Regions from separate parts of the Homo sapiens genome. Here all the other regions are linked to region 1. The links come from fine-mapping of genetic effects on gene expression. A gene starts in region 1. Each other region holds a variant in brackets. All regions are shown on one strand. Distances are between the middles of the regions. Region 1 holds the start of ENTPD1 (ectonucleoside triphosphate diphosphohydrolase 1). Region 2 overlaps ENTPD1 (ectonucleoside triphosphate diphosphohydrolase 1). Region 3 overlaps ALDH18A1 (aldehyde dehydrogenase 18 family member A1). Region 4 has its middle 30 kb from the start of SORBS1. Region 5 overlaps ENTPD1 (ectonucleoside triphosphate diphosphohydrolase 1).

What was found. PIP is the estimated chance that this variant, and not a neighbour inherited with it, causes the effect. A credible set is the group of variants that fine-mapping cannot tell apart.
Region 2: its variant is the best candidate, but not a certain one, in a credible set for the expression of ENTPD1 in whole blood (TOPMed, PIP 0.50).
Region 3: its variant is the best candidate, but not a certain one, in a credible set for the expression of ENTPD1 in whole blood (INTERVAL, PIP 0.82).
Region 4: its variant is the best candidate, but not a certain one, in a credible set for the expression of ENTPD1 in whole blood (TOPMed, PIP 0.56).
Region 5: its variant is the best candidate, but not a certain one, in a credible set for the expression of ENTPD1 in whole blood (TOPMed, PIP 0.75).

Annotation. Positions count from the first base shown.
Region 1 is chr10:95,753,697-95,758,800 of GRCh38, reverse strand. It overlaps ENTPD1 (ectonucleoside triphosphate diphosphohydrolase 1), which reads right to left and starts at 2,638. Exons shown (of 10, transcript NM_001776.6): 1 at 2,546-2,638. The coding sequence starts at 2,561. It overlaps ENTPD1-AS1 (ENTPD1 antisense RNA 1), which reads left to right. Exons shown (of 6, transcript NR_038444.1): 6 at 2,087-5,104. RefSeq lists a silencer at 1,388-1,447 and an enhancer at 2,778-3,077.
Region 2 is chr10:95,876,090-95,881,193 of GRCh38, reverse strand. It overlaps ENTPD1 (ectonucleoside triphosphate diphosphohydrolase 1), which reads right to left. Exons shown (of 10, transcript NM_001776.6): 10 at 3,928-5,104. It overlaps ENTPD1-AS1 (ENTPD1 antisense RNA 1), which reads left to right. Exons shown (of 6, transcript NR_038444.1): 3 at 4,534-4,676. Among named protein-coding and RNA genes, the nearest start is that of CC2D2B, 29 kb to the left of the region's middle. The variant G/A (reference allele first, on the strand shown) is at 2,084.
Region 3 is chr10:95,638,873-95,643,976 of GRCh38, reverse strand. It overlaps ALDH18A1 (aldehyde dehydrogenase 18 family member A1), which reads left to right. Exons shown (of 18, transcript NM_002860.4): 3 at 771-985. Among named protein-coding and RNA genes, the nearest start is that of ALDH18A1, 15 kb to the left of the region's middle. The variant G/A (reference allele first, on the strand shown) is at 2,247.
Region 4 is chr10:95,588,905-95,594,008 of GRCh38, reverse strand. No RefSeq gene overlaps it. Among named protein-coding and RNA genes, the nearest start is that of SORBS1, 30 kb to the right of the region's middle. The variant G/A (reference allele first, on the strand shown) is at 2,005.
Region 5 is chr10:95,861,517-95,866,620 of GRCh38, reverse strand. It overlaps ENTPD1 (ectonucleoside triphosphate diphosphohydrolase 1), which reads right to left. Exons shown (of 10, transcript NM_001776.6): 9 at 1,760-1,897; 10 at 1-444. The coding sequence ends at 238. The region is part of intron 3 of ENTPD1-AS1 (ENTPD1 antisense RNA 1); the gene reads left to right. Among named protein-coding and RNA genes, the nearest start is that of CC2D2B, 44 kb to the left of the region's middle. RefSeq lists a silencer at 1,035-1,329 and an enhancer at 1,148-1,377. The variant T/C (reference allele first, on the strand shown) is at 2,171.

The sequences.
Region 1 (5,104 bases):
GGCTTCTGGCCCTCTATGACTGCTATATGGTCATCCTCTGTGGCTACCTCCTGTACCCCTATCATGACTGAGGCCCCTCTCCCACCACTCTGCCCACACTGATGAGAAAGTTGCCACAAGTTTAGAGACTAAAAATAAAATTGCACTAGACACTGCAGATCTAAAGGTGAATACAGAAAATATAATTGGAAGGGAGAGAAGGTGATGCAGAGGGCAGGAGCATGGACAAGTATGATGAGTGCCACCTTAGGCATAACTGATGAGGTACTATAGAAGCATCCAAGATGGGGGCTAATCTAGACTTGAAGGATTAGAGAAGGCTTAAAGGGGAATAACACCCAATATGAGGCTTCAAGCAGTGATAGCAAATGTTAATATTTATTTAGCAATACTATATATCAGGCCCTGTTCTAAAAACTTTGCATGAATCCCTCATTCAGTCCTTACCACAACCCTGTAAGATAGATGTTACTGTTATTCTCTTCATGTTACAGATGATGAAACTAAGGCACACAGTAAATGGTGGAGCTGAAATTCAAACCCAGGCAGCTCGGCTCCAGACTAAAGGGGAAGCAGAGTACCAGATAGGCCCTTAAAACAGAAGAAAGTGCCTAGCTTCAGTCTGAGGAAAGATGCAGTTCCTTTGGGGAACTGAAAGCAACTCAATGAGGCGCAGCTTGGGGTGGGGACAGACGTTCAGAGATGACTGGGTCTGCTCTGTAGGTTGGAAGAAAAACCAGAAGCAGAGGGTTTCAGATCCAGTCCAAATCTTTTTTTTTTTTTTTTTTTTTTTTTTTTGAGACAGTGTCTCACTCTCGCCCAGGCTGGAGTGCAGTGGTGCAACCTCAGCTCACTGCAACCTCTGCCTCCCGGGTTCAGGTGATTCTCCTACCTCAGCCTTCCAAGTGGCTGGGACTACAGGCGCACACCACCACACCCAGCTAATTTTTGTATTTTTAGTAGAGACAGGGTTTCATCATGTTGGCCAGGCCGGTCTCGAACTCCTGACCTCAGGTGATCCGCCCACCTCGGCCTCCCAAAGTGCTGGGATTACAGGTGCGAGCCACCACATCCAGCCCCCCAGTCCAGACTTTTGACAACTAGCTGTGACTGGTGTCACCAAACTAACCCCTTCTGACCTCAGTTTCTCCTTTTTGCAAAAGACCATAATAACAATACCTGCTTCTCATAGAGAATGGCCATGAGCACCAAATGAGGAAAATGTATGTGAACTTGAGTGCAAAGTACAAATTCCTTCACAGACTTAAGATTTTACCAGTATCACTTCCCCAGTAGCTTCAAGGATTTGCAAACCTGAAATCCACAATGTCAGGGCACCAGAAAAAGCAGAGAAACAGTATTGGGGAGTGGAAAAGCCCACCAGCCCTGCCTCAGACCACCTCCATCCACACTCAGCCCTTACTAACTATGAGATCTCAAGGCAAGTTATCCTCTCAGTACCTCAATTATGCCATCTGGAAAATGGGAATGTCAATGATAGCACTTGTAAGGTTCATGTGACAAGTAAGTAGCACATGTAATATGCTAGGTATAGCTCCCAACACAGAATAAAGACTTAGTCAACATTAACAGCTATCATTATTGTAAGTATTAAGAAATATGTTGGCTACTCATGCTATTCTTCCATGTTCTATACGGTATAAGCATGTGGGAATGTTAGAAGTTAGAGATGATAAAGAAGGAGGAGAAGGAGGTTTACAACCCTATACTCCCTCACTGCTGCAGAGATTCTTCCTGGCTCTCACACGCTGGCAAGCAGCTGGCTCTCCGTCTTGGCAGAAAATGCCCAAAAGAGGTAAAAGATAGAGACTGCACACCATCTGTGCAAACCAGGCTGCTCTTGTAGTTTTTAGACAAAATCTAAATGTAGTCAGATGTGACCTGCCCTTTTAAGATAGAATTATTCTATTTCCTCCCTCTACCCGTCCCCGTCCCCCACTCTGTCCCCCACATAAAACTCCCCCACATATCTCAAGAAACTTTCAGCATTTTGAAAGACATACTCTGGGGTCCTGTTGTGACAGCCTTGTGCCACATTAACTTCTCTGTCTTGTTCCCAGCAAAGAAGCCTTTGCTAATTTCACAACAGGAAAGCATGCAAGAAATTCGAGAACAAAACAAATCTACACGCAGAGCCCAGCATCTTCAAGCAAACACCCTGAGGTACAGACCCGAGGCTAGATGAGTCCGGACTGCAGATGAGGCAGCTGCCTCTTAAACTGCAAGGGGACTGAAAAAGTCATTTGCCTCTAAAAAAACCAACTCTGAATACAAATTGATAATGAATATTCATGAGCCCCTCCAGCTTGCTCTAGAGCCACCCTTGACTGCAACCCTGGACTCTGCTTCCTAAAAAGTTTCCCAAAGCTCTTTCTCTGCCTCCTCTCAGAAGGAAGAGGGTGGGAAAGTTCATTCAGGGCTTTTTGCCTCCAGCTTTCAAGTACTTGCTTTTTGGTCTGGGCTTTTATTTTTCCTTCTATTTTTTTTTTCTTAAGGATTCAGATCAAATCAATTTTGGTCTTACCCTTTGTATCTTCCATAAGTAGCAGCTTTTGTTTTCCTCCTCTTTCCTCGTCTTTCCCCCCCCCAGCCTCTGCTTGCTGTGGTCCGTCTCCGTGAGAGAGGTCCTCAAGGAAACAGAGATATAACAGACCCTTGGGCTCGTGGGAGGGGCTAAATTAGCCGGCCCCGTTTCGGAAGGAACCTCAAACCCTGTCTTTTTCATTGACTAGAAAGGACAGATTGACTGAGGAGTCCAGCAGCTCATTTTCCTAAAGTTACTCGAAGCCTTTTCCAGGTTGTAATTTTTTGCATCCTTGAAGCAATGTATATTCAAATCTCTCTCTCTTTCTCCCTTCTTCCCTCTCTCCCTTACTCCCTCCCTCTTCATCTCTCTCTCCCTCTCTTCGTTATAGAAATCCCTTTTTCTCCCTTGAAAAAGTCATCTCAGCTGCAAGCAAAAAAAGCTATTCCTTACTGCAATTATGAAGCTAGATAATAAGAAAGTTGTTACCTTGAAACCCGCTCGAAAAACTGAAAGTCAAGAACAGTTCTTCCCTCCCCATAAAGCCTCTGGTCCCATGACCAGCAATCCTTTCTCAAGGCTCATTAGAGCAAAGAGCAACAGGTGACCCAAGCGATGAGTTTCCTGCAGGAGACGCTGCGTTATTGGTTGGAAGGCTGGGTGGAACCACAGAGGAGCTGCTCAATGGGAACCGCTGCCTGGCTATGAATTGATGAAAGTCATCCACCATTTCCCAACTTTGACTTCCTACCTTTGAAGTCTAATGAGCATGAATTACCACATCCAGACCGTCAAGATTACCCCAATGTAGATGAGAGCCTGACCAAATTATTTTTAAACTGTGTAACAAAATTATTTTGAAATCAAAACAAGGGCTAATCCTTTGAAAGGAAGGTAAGTCCTCAAGTCCCAAGGCGACTTGGCAGCTTCTCCCTCCACAAGGCTGTTGCAAACCTTAGCATTTCAGGTCTGAAAGATACCTCAGACATTGAGTCTAAAAGAGGTTAGAGATGTGGAGAGGTTAAGCCACCTGCTCATGCTCACATACATGGTCTCTCTTATTTGCTACCATGTTCCCCAGCACCTAATACAGTTTCTCTCACAGCATGGGCTCTCAATAAATATTTGATGAATGGTTGAAAAAAATGAATGAATTGCAGCAAAGCAGAAATGTAGATCTGTTTTCCTGTTTCCTAGTTCTTGATTTTTCTACATTGCTTGTCTGGCATGTAAATTTGTATCTAAAGCCAGTTATACCATATAAATCATTAAATTTGTGAGCCCGAAGGACTGTTTTGACTCTATGTAGAAACTATATTCTCCAGCGAGCTTTCAGTCATACTTTAATAAGGACAAAGGATAACCTTTTAGTTTAGGCATCTCTGTTACTTTGCACGGTGCCACATGGTATATACTCAATACATTTTTTATACTTTAATAAATTTGGAGCTGTTTAACAATACTTTATTTCTGAAATGCTTTATAGTTATAGGATTTTGCATGTATGATAACAACTAATTACACTGAATGAAAGACTCAATGGATGTCTTCTCCCGAGTCAGTTTAGACTACATCTCTAATAATGAATATTGGTCTGATATTCATCCTGTTATGATAAAACTGGTTTTTGGTGATATGATGGGATTTTTTGTAAAAACCAACAATTGGTTTATGACTGCCTTTGTACTATTGTTTTGGAGAGAAATTTGAAAAGAGCATGTCCACAAAATAGTGTGCGAATTACAGAATGGAAACCAAAACATCAAAGCTAGAAAGAGAAAAGAATGATCAAAGGGAAGATCCAGAGTGGCTGAGGGGTAGGCAGGAGAAACAGACAAACAAGTACCTGAGCTTGTCAATGAGAGACACACTTTGGTGGGTGCTGTGGCAACGGTTCTCTACTTTATTACATTAGGATATTAGGTTCTTTTTTTTTTTTTTTTTTTGAGACAAGAGTTTTACTCTTGTCTCCCAGGCTGGAGTGCAATGGAGCCATCTCAGCTTACTGCACCCTCTGCCTCCCGGGTTCAAGTGATTCTCCTGCCTCTGCCTCCAAGTAGCTGGGATTACAGGCGCCCGCCACCTTGCCCAGCTAATTTGTGTATTTTTAGTAGAGATGGGGTTTCACCATGTTGGTCAGGCTGGTCTCGAACTCCTGACCTCAGGTGATCCGCCCGCCTCAGCCTCCCAAAGTGCTGGGATTACAGGCGTGAGCCACCATGCCTGGCCTATTTTACTACGTTCTTACATTCTTTTTTTTGAGACAGAGCCTCACTCTGTCATCCAGGCTGGAGTGCAGTGGCGTGATCTTGGCTCACTGCAACCTCTGCCTCCCAGGTTCAAGTGATTCTTGTGCCTCAGCCTCCCGCGTAACTGGGATTATAGATGCGCACCACTAAGCCTGGCTAATTTTTGTATTTTTAGTAGAGATTGGGTTTCACCATGTTGTCCAGGCTGGTCTCAAACTCCTGGCCTCAAGTGATCCGCTTGCCTTGGCCTCCCAAAGTGCTAGGATTACAGGTGTGAGCCACAGTGCCTAGCCACAGTTCTCTATTTTAA
Region 2 (5,104 bases), 120 kb before region 1:
TTTACTAAAAATTTATTAACACCAAAACAAGTTTGGAATTTTTAAAGCTTATAGTTACAGTCTGATAGCTGATAGTGATACAGGAGATAGAGATTATTTAGGCAGATAGTGAGGGCAAAAGAGTCCTTGGAAGACCCCTCTCTGTAGCAGAGAACTATTCTTTCACCTGTTAAATTTCTGATCTTAACCTCACTCTTTGTGTGTCTGCATCCTTGATCTCTGTGGCCGTCAGACAGCAAACCTCAGGTGTCACCCCAGACAACGAGGCTGCTTCAGTGGGAGGGTGTTTTGGGCTCACAAGTAGATAAAAAGGAGAAATGAAAATGAGGCACAACCCAATTTAGGAGACATCACACCAAAGTCATCTTGTGTCCTGCTGAATTGGGTAAAGGGAGATATTGCTAATACAATAGCATTTATCTTTTATTTATTGTTAAAATACTGGTAATTTATAGCATATTTCCCCTGCCACACATGGGTCTGGGAAAAAGTCAAGGCTTCTTAATGATCAATACCCTCAAAATGGTGTACAGATAAAGAATTATGATTATGCCAACAATGAACCTGTCCAAAGGCATAGGGATTTTGATGAATACCAGTGTAGTGATAGCATAGCAGAAAAGAGACACTTGAGAGACTGGGATTTTGCTAGCAAGGGACTAGGATCAAGATGTTCATTTTTTTTTTTTTTTTTGCTAATCATCAGTGTTACAATGTCTCCCAAGAGGAGATGGAGATCATTAACTGGGTGCCTAGAACAAAACCAAGACCATTTAATGATCACCAGCCTCACAGTGACCTCCATGAACCAGACCCTGGAGATGATTTTGATTTTGTTAGCAAAGCTTGTAGACAAAAGATGCATACTGTTCATAACCAGGCCTATAGTAACTTTCAGGAACACTTCCAATGAAAGATTTTGGTTTTGTTAACAGAGGCTGGAGATAAAAACAACTCTTCCATATAGCTGTGAGTACTCAACCTCATGGGGATTTTCAGAACCAGTTACCTGGACAAGGTTTTCATTACTTCAGTTGAAGTGGTTTGTAAAGGTAAAGACCTTTCCACCAACACTATTCTTATGATGAAATGAATTTGGAAGATTTAGAATGTACTGATGAAGTATCAGATCATACACTGGGACCTTTATATGATCATTCCAACAGTGATTTTTCAGAGAAAATGCCCTTGAAAAAATGTGTTAATAGAGGTTGTGGACAAAGATTGCCACTTTCTCAAAAATTTCAAAAACAAATGGAGTTAAGAAATTTTGTTTTCAACAATGGAACTGGACCAAGGCAAATATTTTACTATTACCACCCACCTAGTGAGCCACAAGAATAAATGCCATCAGAAGACTTGGACTTTGACCAAGAAACATTCTTTTTTTTTTTTTTTTTTTTTTTGAGACAGAGTCTCGTTCTTTTGCCCAGGCCAGACTGCAGTGGCGCTATCTCGGCTCACTGCAAACTCCACTTCCCGGGTTCACGCCATTCTCCTGCCTCAGCCTCCTGAGTAGCTGGGACTACAGGCACCCGCCACCACGCCCGGCTAATTTTTTGTATTTTTAGTAGAGACTGGGTTTCACCATGTTAGCCAGGATGGTCTCGGATCTCCTGATCTCGTGATCCGCCCACCTCGGCCTCCCAAAGTGCTGGGATTACAGGCGTGAGCCACCACGCCCAGCCCCAAGAAACATTCTTACAAAGACCAAGATCTTTTCAGGACCACCCACTTCCTGTTAACATAAATCCTGATTGGTATTTAAACAAGTCAGTCATTTTGTTCTCTACACTAAGGAATGGTATTTTATTTCAATGAAACACTCAAACTTCTTTCAAATTAGGGCATTTGTATAAACATTCAAAAGTGGTATAAAATTATCACTCAATATTTGTTGCGCTATAGATTCAATTTACAACCGAGGTTATTTCTGATTGCTATGAATTGAAAATACCCCATTAAGTTATTTCTTAGGATTGAAGTAAATATAACTTACATTTAAATAGTTTAATTCTTGACCATAAAGAATATCAGAAACAGGCCAGGTGCAGTGGCTCACATCTGTAATCCCAGCACTTTG[G/A]AAGGCCAAGGCGGGTGGATCACCTGAGGTCAGAAGTTTGAGACCAGCCTGGCCAACAATGCAAAACTCTGTCTCTACTAAAAATACAAAAGTTAGCTGGGCGTGGTGGCAGGCGCCCGTAATCCCAGCTACTTGGGAGGCTGAGGCAGGAGAGTCACTTGAACCCGGGAGGCAGAAGTTGCAGTGAGCCAAGATTGCGCCACTGCACTCCGGCCTGGGTAACAGAGTGAGAGACTCCATCTCAAAAAAAAAAAAAAAAAAAAAAAATCAGAAACATAAATGTAAAGGCCATGATTTTTAGACAAGGGTCTTAAAAATATTCCTTATAGATGTGCTACAAAAAATATTTTTGACATACACAACCCAGTAGTCCTTTCTTCTATCATTCAGTAGTTTTTAAATCTGTATCACTGAGGTGAGAGCATTAGCAGATCACTGCCCTCAGAAATTGAAGTGCAAGGCAAGGAGAAAAGTAAAGCATGGCACCCTAAAGGGAAAGAACAAGAGAAGGAAGGATATAAAAAGGTATAGAAATCAAAAGAAAAGTCAGGAAAAGAGAAGTGCTGGAATAGAAAAACTGGAATAGAAAATAAGGCCACAGAAGAGAGAAAAGGTTGAAGGGACACAAAGAGGTGTATAGAGAAAGTCATTATGTGCCTTTCCCCGATTTACAATATATTTTCTCCAGTTATCTATGACATTATTCTGTATATACCTGGTTAGATGTTAACTCCTGCCTGAACCTAGTGTGGGTTATTTTGGTATTTCTTTAGAGACTACTCAGTTTTTCTCTCATAACTTTTCTACTAATATCTCATCTATCTTCCTCACCTTCTTCACTTGACAGGAATCTTGGTACCAATAATTGCAGAGGTAGAAGTCAGAGGTAAATATTGATTTAGCTATGGGATAATCTTTCTCAACCCTATCCCTAATCACTCCCATTGATATGTAAACATGTTAGAAAATAAGTGTTTCATGAATTCACACATATTCAGGGTTTAGATACAACCTCTACAGAGGTTGGCCAGGACCTCTTGAAATGACTGTCACTTCTCCTTCATGGCTTGGGGTTGCAAAACTGATCAGTTTATCTGTACCTAGGTTTCCAGTAGCTAGCAGTTGGTACCAGTTAAACCAGAAATTGTTTCATTTCCCTTATGATAATATAGCTCTATTCCATAATTATAATTCTACACCCTAACTCCAACCCACTGTCTTCCATTGTACAAGATAAAAGACAATGCTGGTCAATAAAAATTCCTTGCTTCTCTTAGGAAAACCTCTCTATTACTGATGGTGGGTTGGGTTAGGAATTTTATAGTATTCCAAAGAGAGCATATAAAAAGGCCTTTTCTCAAAAGCCTTCCTTTTTCTTCCCTCTTGTCACTCAGTACCAGATATGGGGTCGGGGTTACAAGTACACTATATGAAAGAATGAGTTTCAATATAAATGGATATTCCATGTTGAACTAAGCTACTCTATTAAAATCAGATTCAAGTTTTTGTTTCAAATTACCAAGTTTTTCATACTTCCCTAATTTCTTCATCTACTACAGACAGGATTAAAATGACTCAAAGGTATTCCAATCAAGTGGAGAAACCTAAAGGAAAAATTTAGTTATCCTAAAAAGCCTTGGCCTAAGAAAAAATAAGGCAGATGACAGCCAGACAGGATTCCTCCTACCCTCTTCCTTTTAACTGACCCACTACTGACAGATCCATACAATACAGCATGTTATAAATTTGGGTTAAGAAGGGATTGCAGTTGGAAAAAAATAGAGTTCTCTATAAACACTATGAAACAGTTACATTTAAAACATACTAGAATTGTCCCACAAATGTATATTTCAGAAGAAGTTTATTAAGAGGTTTTAGGCTTTAAGCATATGTGAAAAGCAAAAATTACATTTTAAAGTATATAATTTGCATTTTCCACCTTCTCAATGCCAATGAAATATTCTAGGAGACTCTATAAGATAACCAATTGATTTTCTACTACTCCCAAATTTTAACTTTGTAATTTAAAGAGGAATAGGCAAATAGAGCTGCTGTGGTTCTGGTTCTCCCTGCAGGATGAAGGGGGCCTGCAAAATGTCTCCTACTTCCATTCTAGTCATTCAGCAAGGTGCCTTCCTCTGGATGCACTGTCTGTATACTTTTGCCATGTTGCATCACATAATGATTCTGCCCACCTTCACCATTTGACTGTCAGTAAAAGAATGTATGTGCTCATTTCTTCTTTTATTATAGCGCAGTGCTCTTCATGAAGTCTGAATCTTGTTTCATTTGTGATTGTAATTAGCACTTGCTTCTTCAAGACTGGCTAAATGATGATAATCAGTGAAGTTCTGTGATGGGCACATGGATGTGTATTATATTTTTCTACTTTGGTTAATATTTGAATATTCCAATAAGTTTTAAAATAACTTGTTTGTTTCTGTTATTAGAATGGCCTGTCCAGAAGACAGCCAAATACATCCTTCAAACAGACTTCACTGCAGGAGACAGAGTGGATTCATCCTGTATTCTCCATGTAGACTTCCATCTTCATGAGTACTCCAAGAAGATGGTTCAGTTGACTATTGCAAAGGTAAAAATCCAAGAGATACAGATACAGAATAGGACAGAGAGACATATTTTTAAGCTATTGATTACAATTATGGTATGCCTATAGATTGCAGAACCGAGGAGAAAGGGAACATTATGATTTACCATCAAGAAAAACTTAGAATTGGTGCTGAGTAGTTCATTCTAAGAATTACCATTTATCTGTATTTGCCCCCATTTTCATTGTTACTAGGCCAAAAGTCATTTCATAATTAATAAGTTGGATGTCAAAATCAACTTGTGTTATTATAAAATTAGCAATCTACATTATGTGTTTCTTTACATTTTTATAGGAGTATTTATAAATATACCTAAGAAAACTGACAATGTGGAGTACAAATGTTGCATTTTCAAAACTGGGAATCTGTTTATTGAGGCTCTATTTTTAGTTATGTATGATAATAGACTGCA
Region 3 (5,104 bases), 110 kb after region 1:
AGACGGGGTTTCACCATGTTGTCCAGGCTGGTCTCGAACTCCTGACCTCAGGTGATCCTTCTGCCTCGGCCTCCCAGAGTGCTGGGATTATAGGCATGAGCTGCCATGCCTGGCCGGCTTTTTCCTCTTTTTATAGTAATATGGTTTCTTTAGAAACACCCATATTTTTCTGATTATGAAAAAAAAATGCATCTTTACTGCATAAACTTGGAAAATCTAAGAAAGAACAAAGAAGAAAATTTAAAATTGCTTATAATCCTATCAAGAGATAAAATATTAATTTTTCATTAATTTTATCCATCTATGTGTTTATACATGTATATGAAATTAACATGTATTTTTCTACATTATTAAAAATTCTAAAAATGTTAATCTTTTTCCCTTTATCCAACATTTACTCTGCTTCTGATTTTTCTGATAATAAATAACAGTGATGAATAGCTTTCTGATAAATCTCTTTTTTAGAGAACTTTTTTAAGGCTTTCGATAAATTTGCCAACCTGTCTTCAAGAGAGATTAATTTGTTTGTACTCTTCACCAACAGCATTTGAGTGTGCCTATGACCTGCATACTGGGTGTAAACTCCATACAATACTAAAATAAGAATACGCTAGATAGAGCTTTTGATACACTGTGCTAGTTTTACACAGTTAATAATGATAATGCTATTTTTTGGTATCTAAACTGGTTAATACTGAGCATGTATATTTTTATTGAAAAACTATATTGAGTATTTCTTTTTTTCTTGCATTTGACTTTGATGGCTACAGATTGTATCCAGCCTTCAGTCATCAGACATGTTCGTTCTTGGAGCAACATCCCGTTTATCACTGTACCCCTCAGTCGTACACATGGCAAGTCCTTCGCCCACCGCAGTGAGCTGAAGCATGCCAAGAGAATCGTGGTGAAGCTCGGCAGTGCCGTGGTGACCCGAGGGGATGAATGTGGCCTGGCCCTGGGGCGCTTGGCATCTATTGTTGAGCAGGTGATTGCCAAGATAGAAATTATGCTGTACTAAAATTGGGTTTTTAAGTCGCTAGTTCAGATTAGGTTTAAGTTGCTCATCAACTTAAAAAAATAATTGTGATTTCAGTGCAGTAGATTTAACCCAATGTGAAAACTGTTTCCCACTGTAGACGCCAGTGAGAGACGACATCTTAGGGCAAGAAAATGGGATGTTAAGGAGTAGGGGTGATTTCATGCAGTTCATGTCTCAGACTTCTTAGTGATAAAGAGCTGTTTCTGTCAGAGATTCTTAGTTCTGACTACGCAGTAGAATCATCTTGGGCCTGGAGATGCTTGGGCTTCACACCTAGCCATTTAAGAAGTATCTCTGGGATGAAGCAGCTGTGTTTGTTTGTTTTGAGAGGATCTCACTCTGTCACCCAGGCTGGACTGTTGTGGCATGATCATGGCTCACTGCAGCCTGGACCTATCGAGCTCAAGTGATACTCCCACCTCAGCCTCCCGAGTAGCTGCAGCTACAGGCACAAACCATTATGCCCAGCAAATTTTTGTATTTTTCGTAGAGACAGGGGTCTTGCTATGTTGCTCAGGCTGGTTTCCAACTGCTGGGCTCAAGTGATCCTCCCACCTTGGCCTCCCAAAGTGCTGGGCCTGCAAACTTTTTCTGCAAGAGGCCAGATAGTAAATATTTTAGTTTCGTAGGTTATATGGTCTTTGTCTCAACTACACAGCTCTGCAGAAGCAACCATAGATAATATATAAATGAATGAGCGTGGCCGTGAGCTGATAAAATTTCATTTACAAAAACCAGCAGCATGCCAGATTTGGCCAAAAGTAAAAATCCAGACATCCAGGCATCCCACAGATAAAGCAAGAGCTATTCCATGGCAGCTGAAATCTTACACTACCTTGTAATTAAATTTTCAGTTTTTAAAAAACAAGTTCCTGAGGTGTTAATATTGGGAAATTGCTAACCTGAAACTTGATACAATTTTTTTCTTATATTTTCTATTCTAAATTATCAAGCCTGAGCAACAAAGTGAGACCCTGTCTCTACAAAAATAAAATCGGTTGGGTGTGGTGACTTGCGCCTGTAATCCCAGCGCTTTGGAAGGCTGAGGCAGAAGGATTGCTTGAGCCCAGGAGTTCGAGACCAGCCTAAGCCACATAGTGAGACCCCCATCTCTACAAAAATTTTTTTAAAAATTAGCCAGGCATGTGGCACGTTCCTGTGGCCCCGGCTACTCGGGAGGCTGAGGTAGGAGGATTGCTTGAGCCTG[G/A]GAGATTGAGGCTGCAATGAGCTATGATCATGCGACTGCACTCCAGCCTTGGTGACAGAGCAAGACCCTGTCTCAAAAAGTTCTAACTTCTTGGTAGGCTGAGACAAGGGGATTGCTGGAGCCCAGGAGCTCAAGGTTGCAGTGAACTGTGATAAAGTCGCTGCACTACAACCTGGGCAACAGAGCAAAACCCTGACCACCCCCCCACCCGCCCCTGCAGAAAAAAAAAAACAAAAAACACCCAGAACAACAGCAATGATCAAACCCACCTCCCAGATTGAGTCCATCAGATAAATTTTAAAAATATTTATCAAGAGACTACACTGTGAGGGGCACTAGCCTCTCTACCCTCTCTACCTTAGAAACATAACAGTCTTTACCCTTTGCGAGCCAGAACTGGGACTCCCCACACATTAAGGTGACTGTTCAGGGCAGTAAATATCCAAATAAGTGGGCCCAAATGACAGTGAGCGATGGGTCCAGAGGTGGGAAACTCAGATGAGAGTATGGTTGTTCCTGGGGCTTCCTAGGAGAGCTGGAACTCAGCCTGGGCCTTGACAACTGATGGGATTTGCACAAACAGAGGGGAAAAGTTCCATGCTACTAAGTACACAGTGTGAGGTGCCCCTGCAGTTGTGCAATCCAGTGGTTCTGGGGAAGGGACAGGCTCTAGGAGTGTATTCCAGGTAGAGGACAGGCAGGAATGAGTATGGCATGCTGTGGGCCAGGGAGGAGACAAGCTGGAAAGCAGAGGTGGTGGTCTCATTAGGAAGAATGAAAAATAAAGTGGATCATTCCATTAGGCAGAGCTCTGAAGCCAACTAGGTGAGTTGGAGTTCAGTCTCAAAAGCAGGCTGAAGATTTTGAACGGAGGAGAAACTTGATGAAAACGGTAGGAAAAACCTGGTAAAGGTTTGCGTAGGTTACCAGCTTTCTTTCTAGGGCTGCGTGTGGACCTAATGGAAGAGCTGTCTCCATCAGGGCCTGACTAATAGACATCTTATCATGTCAGATGGACTCAGGAGCCAACTTAAACTGGCTTCCACTGGCCATAAATGGGATGATGTAAACATCAAGAAAGGGAATCACAGCTGGGCACAGTGGCTTACACCTGTAATCCCAACACCTTGGGAGGCCAAGGTGGGCAGATCACCTGAGGTCAGGAGTTCAAGACTAGCCTGGCCAACATGGTGAAACCTCATCTCTACTAAAGATACAAAAATTAGCCAGGAATGGTGGCACCTGCCTGTAATCCTAGCTACTTGGTAGGCTGAAGCAGTAGAATTGCTTGAACCTGGGAGGTGGAGGTTGCAGTGAGACAAGATCGCACCACTGCACTTCAGCCTGGGCGAGAGTGAGACTCAGTCTCAAAAAAAAAAAGAAAAAAGGGAATCACTGCACAATACAACAAAATATGTTTAAATCCATGAGTTCATAATTATACTTAAAAAAAAAACTTCATTGGCCATTTTTGGAGGCCACTAGAGAAGCTACTCATATTGAAAATGGATGAGTAAAGGGGAAGAGACACACATTTGTCCTGCTTTTCATAGACAAACTGTACCTCAGGGTAACCAAATAGTTGGTAAAGGAGAGTTTCCCTTTTGGAATTATTCCAGATTATAAATGACGAAGGAATCATTGAGTTAGAGTGTCAGCATTTTGCATCTCCTAATGGAATAATGGATCTTGGCAATGATCATCAACAGATGCTAACATCACAAAAAGAAAGATAACCAGGCATTATGTATCCCCTTGATGAACATGTACACCACAACTTATAAAGACTTGTTGGGGAAAAAAAAAAAAGCCTTCATACCAAACAGCAGTTTATAGGGTATACAAAGAGCAGTATTAATACCATAAGGACACAATTGGGAAAATGTAGGCTGGGAAATCCTAAAGAATAAACAACTCAGTTTAACAAAAAATTACAAGGGGGAAAACTGATGGAGAAGGGAACCCATGAATGAAAGAGACTTGAGAGACACTTCAATTAATTTGTAATGCAGGGTTTAATTTGCATCTCAATTTGAGCAAGGTAAAAAAAAATTGGAAAAATATGAACACTGGCTATTTGATATGAAGGAAATCATTGAAATATTCCAGATAATGGATTTGTGGAGAGAGAAAGACATATAATTATATATTATATATAATATATATGATTATCTTTTAGCAGTTATTACTGAGCTATTTACAGATGAAATAACATGTCTGTTGCCTGGAATTTGTATTAAAACAATGGTGAGGGTATAGAGGGGTTATTGGAGAGTGGGAAGTTGGCCATGAGAGATAGTTGGTGAAACTGGGTGGTATGTACATGGGGATTTATAATACTATTCTCAGCACTTTGGTTAAGTATTAAATTTTCTTTTTCTTTTTCTTTTTATTTATTTTAGAGAGAGGGTCTTGCTCTGTCACCTAGACTGGAATGCAGTGGTGTAATCATAGTTCACTGCAGCCCTGAACTCCAGGGCTCAGTTGGGATCCTTCTTCAGCCTCCTGAGTAGCTGGGACTACAGGCACATGCTACTTGGCTATTATTTTTTTTAATTTTTCATAGATATGGGGTCTTACTATTTTGCTCAGGCTGGTTTCGAATTCCTGGCCTCAAGCAGTCGTCCCACCTCAGCCAGCTGAAACTTTCTGTGATAAAATATTATTGTCGGGGCCAGGCACAGTGGCTCACACCTGTAATCCCAGCACTTTGGGAAGCCAAGGTGGCTACTCAAGGGGCTGAGGTCAGGGGGTTGCTTGAGTCCTGGAGGTCAGGGCTACAGTGAGCCATGATTGTGCCACTGTCCTCCAGCATGGGTGACAAAGCAAGACTGTGTTTCAAAAAAAAAAAAGTTATT
Region 4 (5,104 bases), 160 kb after region 1:
GCCATTGGAAGCTTCCAGACTTATTCTCACAGCTTTGTCAGACTTTCCACCCACTGTAAAAATAAAAAGGCTCATGGTCCCCAGTTTCGCTGCAAAAAGACTCTAGTCTGTTTGGGCCACCTGTCCTCACTGTAGTAGAGGTGTGGAGCAGGGGCCATGGTATGCTCTGGGTTGATTCAGCCGTATATATCTGGATGACCTCACTATGGTTAAATGTTGAAAGGGTTTCAGAGGGCTTCCTCTTCTGGATAGGATGTATATGTAGGAACAATCCAACACTCCTGCTGAAGCAACTAGAAAAAACAGAGTAAGTTACAGAAATCACCTTTTTAAGACACCTCAGAGTTGTGCCATCAATGAGGACTAATGAACTGAAATTCTGGAGAGGAAAGAGCCCTTTCCGTTTTTTTTTTTTTTTTTTGAGACGGAGTTTCACTCTTGTTGCCCAGGCTGGAGTGTAATGGCACGATCTAGGCTCACCGCAACCTCCGCCTCCTGGGTTCAAGTGATTCTTCTGTCTCAGCCTCCCAAGTAGTTGGTATTGCAGGCATGTGCCACCACACCCAGCTAATTTTGTATTTTTATTAGAGACAGGGTTTCACCATGTTGGTCAGGCTGGTCTCAAACTCCTGACCTCAGGTGATCTGCCCGCCTTGGCCTCCCAAAGTGCTGGGACTACAGGCGTGAGCCACTGCGCCCGGCCGGAAAGAGCCCTTTCTAAATGTGCTGATTGTCTCTGACCATTTTCTTCCCAGGGGGTATTTGCCAAATCTGTGCACAGGCCAAGGATAGGGCTTGACCCAGGCATAGGGTCTCTACTGGGGCAAAGAGAAACTGGTAGAGTTTTTGATGATCAATGTTATCTGGTGTAATGTTAGAATCTAGAGCTAAGCTGGAGCTCCTAAGAACAGAGCTGAATCTTCCATAGGCTTTCAGGGATGAGAAGACAGAGACATGCCAATGAAAAGCTTGAGTGGGCTCCATCCAAGGAATAGTGGTGACTCAGAGGTGGACTGGGACTAACCAAGACTGCAACCCAGCCTCAACCCAGCTGAATTCTTGACTAGGTTAAGGTGATCAGTCCCTCACCCCATCTGCTAACAGAAGAAAAAGAGATTCATCACTGGAGGAAAATAATATCATCTTTTGCCTCTGTTTTCTTTTATATAATTATAAGGCATGCAAAGAGCAGGAAAATGTGACTGATAAGGAAAATAAGCAGGGGCCGGGCATGGTGGCTCATGCCTGTAATCCCAGCACTTTGGGAGGCCGAGGTGGGTGGATCACCTGAGGTCAAGAGTTTGAGACCAGCCTGGCCAACATGGCGAAACCCCATCTCTACTAAAAATACAAAAATTAGCCAGGCGTGGGGGTGGACACCTGTCATCCCAGCTACTCAGGAGGCTGAGGCAGGAGAATCGCTTGAACCCAGGAGATGGAAGTTGCAGTGATCCAAAATCGCACCATTGCACTCCAGCCTGGGTGACAAGAGTGAGACTCTGTCTCAAAAAAAAAAAAAAAGAAAGAAAAAGAAAAAGGAAAAAAACAGGCTGGATGCAGTGGCTCATGCCTGTAATCCCAGCACTTTGGGAGGCTGAGGTGGGTGAATCACTTGAGCTCAGAATTTGAGACCAGCCTGGGCAACATGGCAAAATCCCATCTCTACTAAAAATAGAAAAATTAGCCAGGTGTGGTGGCACATGCCTGTAGTCCCAGCTACTTGGGAGGCTGAGGTGGGAAAATCACTTGAATCTGGGAGGCAGAGGTTGCAGTGAGTAGAGATCGCACCACTGCACACCAGCCTGGGTGATAGAGCGAGATCCTGTCTCAAAAAAAAAAAAGAAGTTAAAAAATTACCTGGGTGGCCGGGCAGAGTGGCTCACGCCTGTAATCCCAGCACTTTGGGAGGCCAAGGCGGTTGGATCATGAGGTCAGGAGATCAAGACCATCCTGGCTAACACAGTGAAACCCCTGTCTCTACTAAAAATACAAAAAAAATTAGCC[G/A]GGCGTGGTGGTGGGAGCCTGTAGTCCCAGCTACTCAGGAGGCTGAGGCAGGAGAATGGCATGAACCCAGGAGGCGGAGCTTGCAGTGAACCAAGATTGTGCCACTGCACTTCAGCCTGGGGCGACAGAGCCAGACTCCGTCTCAGACAAACAAACAAACAAACAAACAAACAAAATTACCTGGGCTTAGTCACAATACCTGTAGTCCGAGCTACTTGGGAGGTTAAGGAGGGAGGATTGTTTAAGCCCAGGAGGTCAAGGTTGCAGTGACCCATGATTGTACCACCACACACCAGCCTGGGCAACAGAGCAAGAACCTGCCTCAGAAAAAAAAAATAAAAGTAGAGAAAGAGCAGGCAATAGAAGCAGACCCACAACTGATTCTGATATTTGAGTTAGCAGACAAGGACTTTATAATGAGTATTATAAACATGGTAAATAGAGAAAATAGTACAATAGATGAAAAATAAAGAATTTCAACAGAGCATTCGAATCTATAAAAAAAGAACCAAATGGGCTTTCGAGAACTGAAACATGCAATATTTATAATTAAGAACGCATTAAGTGAAATATTTCCATAGCTGTTGGTAAATACCTACTGACCCAAGACTCCTAAGTTCCCTGTCCTCATCTCCTGGCCATCCTGGACCTCCTTGGGACACCCTGGACTTCCCCATGGCCCAACAACTAAGAGTTAATGGCTAGCCCAGCGTCCCTTGTGATTGGTTGGTGTCTGTGCTTTCCCATTGTTTAACTATTTTGATTTTAATGTCATCTCTGACTAATTGATTGACTGATAGAGTTGAGGGTTTTTTTGTTTTTTGTTTTTAGACTGAGTCTCGCTCTGTCACCAGGCTGGAGTACAGTAGCGTGATCTCGGCTCACTGCAACCTCCGACTCCTTGGTTCAAGCGATTCTCCTGCCTCAGCCTCCTGAGTAGCTGGGATTACAGGCATGCACTACCACACCCGGCTAATTTTTGTACTTTTTGTAGAGACGGGTTTCACCATGTTGGCCAGGAAGGTCTTGATCTCCTGACCTCGTGATCCACCCGCCGCAGCCTGCCAAAGTGCTGGGATTACAGGCATGAGCCACCGCGCCTGGCCTGAGATGAGATTTTACTGTGTTGCCCACGCTGGTCTCAAACTCCTGGGCTCAAGTGATCATCCTGCCTTGGCCTCCTGAATAGCTGGGACTTGATGTCTTGGTACTGTCACTGGAAGTCCCTATCAGAACCAAATAAATGAAATTGGGTAGAAAGAATTCCCCAAAGGTGGCAATACCAATAAGAGGAGATGTGGAAGGACACAGAAAGGATATTTGTTCACTTATGATGCCCACTCCGAAAGCCAGATATCTAAGACTGAAGCCTGCTGTTTGCCGAATTGAGCTTCTTTTAAGTTTCCTCACCACTGTATTTGAGGAGACTTGAGTGAGCCAGTGGGGAACAGATTCAGTGAGGCTAGATAAGTTTGCTGTGTGGCTTGGTCTCCTGAATATGATCAATTTGTAGCTCCTACACCAGTTATTTTCATGAAATAATCAGGACAGCCTTAGCAACCTGCGTTTCTCAAAGGCAAAAGAATTTAGTGTGGACTAACTGCCTCCCAGAATACAGGTTAAAAGAGTAGATTTTAGAGATGGACAGTTCCGGATTCAGACTCCATATCTGCAATTAACTGGTTGTTTGACCTTGGGCAAATCACTCTACCCCTCTGAATTGCTCATGTGTATCTCGAAGGTTTGCAGCAGACACTGTTGGTTAACTACCGAATGGGTTCCTCCCCTTTTCTTTGCTGAAAAATAGTGTTTTTGTTTTGTTTTTTTTTTTTTTTTTTTTTTTGAGCGGAGTCTAGCTCTGTCACCAGGCTGGAGTGCAGTGGCGCGATCTTGGCTCACTGTAATATCCGCCTCCCTGGTTCAAGCGATTCTCCTGCGTCAACCTCCCAAGAAGCTGGGATTACAGGCACGCGCTGCCACGCCCAGCTAATTTTTGTGTTTTTGGTAGAGAGGGGTTTCACCATGTTGGTCAGGATGGTCTTGATCTCCTGACCTCATGATCCGCCAACCTCAGCCTCCCAAAGTGCTGGGATTACAGGCATGAGCCACTGCGCCTGGCCAGATCTCATTTTTCTTTTTTTTTTTCAGAGTGTTTTATCTCTTCCTCTTTCAACTCAGGGGTGAATTATGCTTGGTGTAGGCCCATTGCAATAATACCACTTTTGGGTCAATGGTTGGATTAAGCATGCATGTATGACCCAGTTCTGGCCACTGAGATGAGAGGGGTGATCAACTAGAGGCTTCTTGGAAAGCTTTTCTTGTACTTAAAAAAGATACAAGGAAGAGATCGTCCCTCTGCTAAATACTGTCATGTCCAGATGGGATGCCTGGAAGTGTAACAGCCATTTTGTGGTCACAAGGGTACCCAGGCTGACGATCCAAGCCAACTAAGGATGGCAGAGTGAAAAGATGGCAAGAACTGGGGTGCCTAATGACATCATCAAGCTTCTAATTTAACCAACCCTAAAGCTACCCCTGGTAGGGACTTATTATTACATAGAAAATAACTCATTTCCTCACGTTTAAGCTATTTTTATTTGGGATTTCTCTTACATGGAGTCAAAAGCGTCCTAACAAACCCAGAGTTGTTTATGAGGATTTGATTCAATAAAATGATTTATGTAAAGCACTTAACACAATTCCTGGTATAAAAGGTGCTCAAAAAATAAGTATTATTATCATCATCATCATTTTTTTCTCATTTTTATCTCCCCTTATTGCCTTGGTGCTGGCTGTAAGCAGAGGATAATGAGTCTGGGATTTAAAGACGTGATGACAGGGATGGGGGAGTCAGAGGGAAAGGGATGAATTTAGGTGCCTGGGCTCTTCATCCAGAGCACCATTGAACAGTAATTTCAGTTAAGGGTTTTTCATCTGTGTGTGGATGCAGACAACAGAAACTGACTTAAGTTAGCTCGAATGAGCAAAAAGCTGTGTTTTTTGAAGGGTATGGAGTGTGTCACATAATTGAAGGAAAAGATGAACAGCAAAGATTTAGGCAAGGAAGGAATTAAGTTTCGGAAATTCTCATCCTCGGAAC
Region 5 (5,104 bases), 110 kb before region 1:
GGAGAAAGGTGTAGCTGGGAAAAACTCATGAAAGAGACAGTATCTGCCGAAGTCCTTGAGGCAAAGGATATTGAATACCTCCAAAAGAAAGGCTTCAGTAAAAGCCAAGGAAGCTTCACACTCGTCAAGACTGGCCCTGGCAGACAGGGAAGGATGGCCTTGAACACTGCGATGGAGGAAAATGCTCCCTGGACGATTTTTTTCCTCACTCCAGCCAGCATATTTCAGCTGCTTTTGCTATACCATATCTTTCCAGAAATATGAAGGCTTGTGAAAGATAAGCAAGCCTATGATGGCCACTGTGAAAAGGACCAGGGAGAATAGAACCATGAGGAAGACATAGGTGGAGTGGGAGAGAGGTGTGGACAATGGTTGCTCAGCTGGGATCATGTTGGTCAGGTTCAGCATGTAGCCCAAAGTCCAGCCGGCGTCGCTGCCCTGGATCTGCAAACAGTGGGGAAAGTCTGTTTGTGGTTGGAGGAGTTAGAAGAGTTATCACCTAGGGCTTAGAATTATTGGATCATGCATTGGAAGAGTTCAAACAATATAAATCACTGGCTGGGCACAGTGGCTCATGCCTGTAATCTCAGCACTTTGGGAGGCCAAGGAGGGAGGATCACTTGAGGCCAGGAGTTTGAGACTAGCCTGGGCAACATAGTGAGACCCTGTCTCTCTAAAAAATAAAATTAGCTGGGCACGGTGGAACATGTCTGTAGTCTCAGCTATTTGGGAGCCTGGGTGGGGAGGATCATTTAATCCCAGGAGTTTGAGGCTTCAGTGAGCTGTGATCATACCACTGCACTCCAGCCTGGGTGACAGCGTGAGACCATGTCTCTTAAAAAAAAAGTATATACACACACATACATCATGACTACCTCGTGTGTCAGTCCTAAATTTGACATAGGTATAATCTTTCAAACAAAATAAACTGCTGGAATTAAAGGAAGTCTGGAATATTATAACAAGGAAAAGATTTAAGTTTGAATTAGCAAGATCAGCACTGACAAGAGTGTAAGGACACTGTTATCCTCAGGCCTGCTACAGCCCTCTGTCTCAATGCTTTGTTTTGCTTGAAATCACCATATTTAATACAGGGGGTAAAATGTTTTCCCCACTAGTGAGCATGGGCTTAAAAAGGTAGAGACACACTGCTCTGGGTATTTTTGGTCAAGCATGAGTCGCTCAGCTGGGTTCTCTATTCCTGGATACCTGCAGGTGGTGCTATGGTAAAGCACAGCATTGAGGTTGCTTCTTCCGGACTCAGGCTAAGCCTGGCTTCTAAACAACGGTCTCATCATTCACAGCCACTCAGTCCCCTTCTTCACACAGAGCTTTCAGATTGGTCAACCTTGAAGTAATAACCAACAAGGATGATGAAACCATGATCATACTTTCCCAGCTTATGGAAGGGGCCTTTCAGAGGGCTGCTGAAGTCAGCACACAGAGTCACTGTAGCTGCTGAAATGCTGTTACTTTAATATATCTCGTTTTGTGTTTTGTTTTGTAAGGAATTAGTCACTGTTATGTGGGAAGGTGCAACTGAAAATGCAAGTAGCTGTCCTTAGCGAGGATGCTCACAGTGGGCCAACAGACCCAGGAGGGCTTGACACAGAATGCCAGGGTTTGAAGCAGAATGGCAGAACAGGACATCAAGCCAAAGCTACACCATGCTGACTCCCCCCTTTTTCAAGCCCCAAACTGCTTCAGTCACTACCACCGAACCCCAACCTCCCCCCAGCCCAACAGGCCCCCAAATTACCTTGCCAATGAAATGGATGTGCTCCCAGGAATCAGCTGTGAAATGATAGCCTTGCAGAAGGAGGGAGAGAATGTAGGTACCAGAAAAGCAGTATTCACTCAGGTACTTCTCCTTTACTCCAGCGTAAGATGTTTTTATCTAGAAGTGAAGTGAGGGGGAGATCATACTCGTATGATAGGCACCTCTCTGTGGCCCTCTTTTTCTCTACTAGCCCTGATGAAGAGAGGGGAAAGCCCCAGCTCCAGTGCACCTGAAGGTTGGCCTCTTCCAGAGGGTTTTGGGGGTGGTGCTGCACTCCTTCAGTGGGAGCAGGGTTTTATAGTTTAGGGTCTCTTAAGGAAGCTTTTCCTGCACAGGCTTCTATGAGATAATAACAGGTCCTCCAGGAAAAAAGTAGTTCCTGTGGTCTAG[T/C]AGGTTCTGAAACACTAAATTTCAGTACCTCTGTTCATGCCCTAGACTTTGTTTAATCTGAGTTTTCTATATGCTCTTGACCAGAGCCTTTGGCCCACAGCCATAAAAAGCCTTACCACTCACTTTAGTCCCTGGACTGGCAGCATCAGCATCACTTGGGAGCTGGTTAGTCCTCACCTTAAAACTACCAATTCAGAATCTGCATCCCAATATGATTCCCAGGTGATTCACGTGCACAGTAAAGTTTGAGAAACACAGCTGTGGACACAGTTTAGGCAGCATTTTGCTGAGGACTGCTAGCACTGCCAACATCTCACCTTCTATCTTCTGTCTTAATGTCTTTTTTTGCATCTGAGTCATGCAAAGTGGTTGTTTCCTTGAGTCCTTCCTATGTTTACTCATCCTACTCCCTACTAAAAATATTAAGAGCTGCTTGCCATCCCTTGCCCTTACCTAGCCTAGCTGTTGTGAATATACACCCAGATACCCACAGCCTGCTCTGCAACTCTCCTGCCCTCAATTTGAGGACAACAGGCCAGGACCTCTCTAGTTCAGCCTGGACTTCTGTCTGCTGCCCCATTCCTCAGCCCTTCAGATAGGCATTCCCTCCTGGATACCCTCGGCAGAGAGAGAACATTTGTTATGCATGCATCATGTACCATCTGGAACTATGCCAGATGTTTTATATGTAGTATCTCCTTGATGCCTAAACCACACCCCTCTTTTCCCAGATTTCTCTCCCTTCCGTGGGTCCTAACCCATATGCAAATCCTAACCGCTGGCTGGGGTCTGTTTCTCACTTGGTTCTTGCCTGTCCCCAGTTTCTGGAAGGATAAGTCCATAACTAGACTGCCTTGTCTTGCTCTGATGAAATTCTCAGAATGACCCAGCTTGGAGCTTGTCTTTTCAGCACAGTTCTGGAAATTATCCTTTGATTGATTCCTCTGCATGTGACATCCTCTTGAGACCTTGGTGTGGACATCAGTTGGCATTGCCTGTCCAGGTTCCTACCCCTTCCTTTCAGTCACTGCATTCTGCTTTCCCTTTGTGAAAAGACCTCCTCCCCTATTGAAGTAGTCTTGGGCCTGTCAATTGAAGGATGCCTATGGGACACAAAATCCCAAGAATCTACTTAGGTCCAACTTGAAAGTGCTGAGCCCCTGTAGGTCCTTGAAGGCTGGCCTATCCCTTGTGGGGGGCTGGGAGATGCCATTTTGGCCTAATTTCCCTGAATTCTTTAATACTCCTATTCCCCTCCTCCTTCTGGAAATCTGTACATTGGCTATGCAGTCTGGCCTCCTGAAGGTTATGATAGTAGCCAAAAATATAGAAGCCAAAAAGGCATCCACCTTCTTCATCAATCCAGAATTGATCATGCTCATGCCTGTGGGTGGATCACTATGTGCTCTCCAAATTGGGAGGGGAAGTCTACTCTCCTCTCTCCTCTCTCTCCCACCTTCCCCTCTCTCTTCTCTCCTTTCTATTCCCAGGGCAGTGGAACATGATGAGGTTCTTTTCTCTTCATGGATATCCTCTTTCTGCCCTCCACATAAAGGGGCATTGATGGATCTTCAAGAATGGGATGCCTTTCCCTAGAAAGGCTAAATATTCATGAGGCTGAATGTGAGGATCCAGAGTACACTGAAATATAACTGGTCATCAGTACACATAGAATCTGATCACATTGTTCACTTGGGCTGACCAGATCTTGGATGACCAGATTTTCAGAGTAGAAAATTGGCTGTGTTCTGGCTGCTGAAAGATTCTACTAGCCCTCTAATGAAGCTGCCAGAAGACAACCATGGAGTCTCCCTTCCACTCACTCTCCTGGTCCCTCCACTTCAGAGACCCAATGGCTTCAGGTACCTGACTGAGTGTCAGCAGGTGTGGTTTGCATTTTATTTCCCTTGCCAAAGCAGGGGAAGGCAGCATGATAGGATATGCATAAAGCACAGCAAGCAAATGTCCACCACTGTCAACACATAGTACATGCTTAAACATTGTTAATTATCTCTCTACCAAAGGTGTTTAGGAGGAACATTCCCAAACACAAGCCATACTGGAGTAGCAGTCCATGATGAAGTTAGGAGGGAAAGAAGAAAGAGTCACCTTCTAACAATGTACTTGACAAAACTATGCTTTCTACCTGGGTGGACGATGCAGCTTGGGAAAGTGAACCCTGGGTCATAACATCCACCTCAATGCTGTAGGCTCTGGGTGAAGACAGGGGTCTAACCCTGCAACCCCTTCCCCAAATGCTTCAGGAATTCTCCCAAATGCAGGCCCTTCTTAGCTTACTTCCAGGGCCTCTGAACAACTCCCCACATGACTTACCTGAGCAGAACTACAGGTCTAAATATAAGCATTCCCAGCCTAACATAGTCTTATGAAGTAAAACATGAGATGTGGATAAGAGAGGAAACCTGACAGAACTTTTTTTTTTTTTTTAATTTTTGAGATGGAGTCCTGCTCTGTCACCCAGGCTGGAGTGCAGTGGCACAATCTCAGCTCACTGCAAGCTCCGCCTCCTGGGTTCATGCCATTCTCCTGCTTCAGCCTCCCAAGTAGCTGGGACTACAGGTGCCCACCACCATGCCCGGCTAATTTTTTTTGTATTTTTAGTAGAGACGGGGTTTCACCATGTTAGCCAGGATGAGAACTTTTAATCTAAACCAGAAGTAATTTTTTTTCAAAGAGCAGCCTAAATCTGCTTCCTCAGCAGCCACATGTAGGCCTGGTCTCAAATTGCCTCCACTCTAACATGCTTATCTTCCTCCACAGATCACCGCCAGATGCAAAAAACCACCGCTAAGCATTTTGTAAAATGCTGAGACATATTTGAGCAACTCTTGATGAAGGCCCTGACCACATTTCTTTCATGTTCTAGACAAAATACCTGGAGAGAATGGCAAGCTTCCAGGCTCTTGCTCAGCC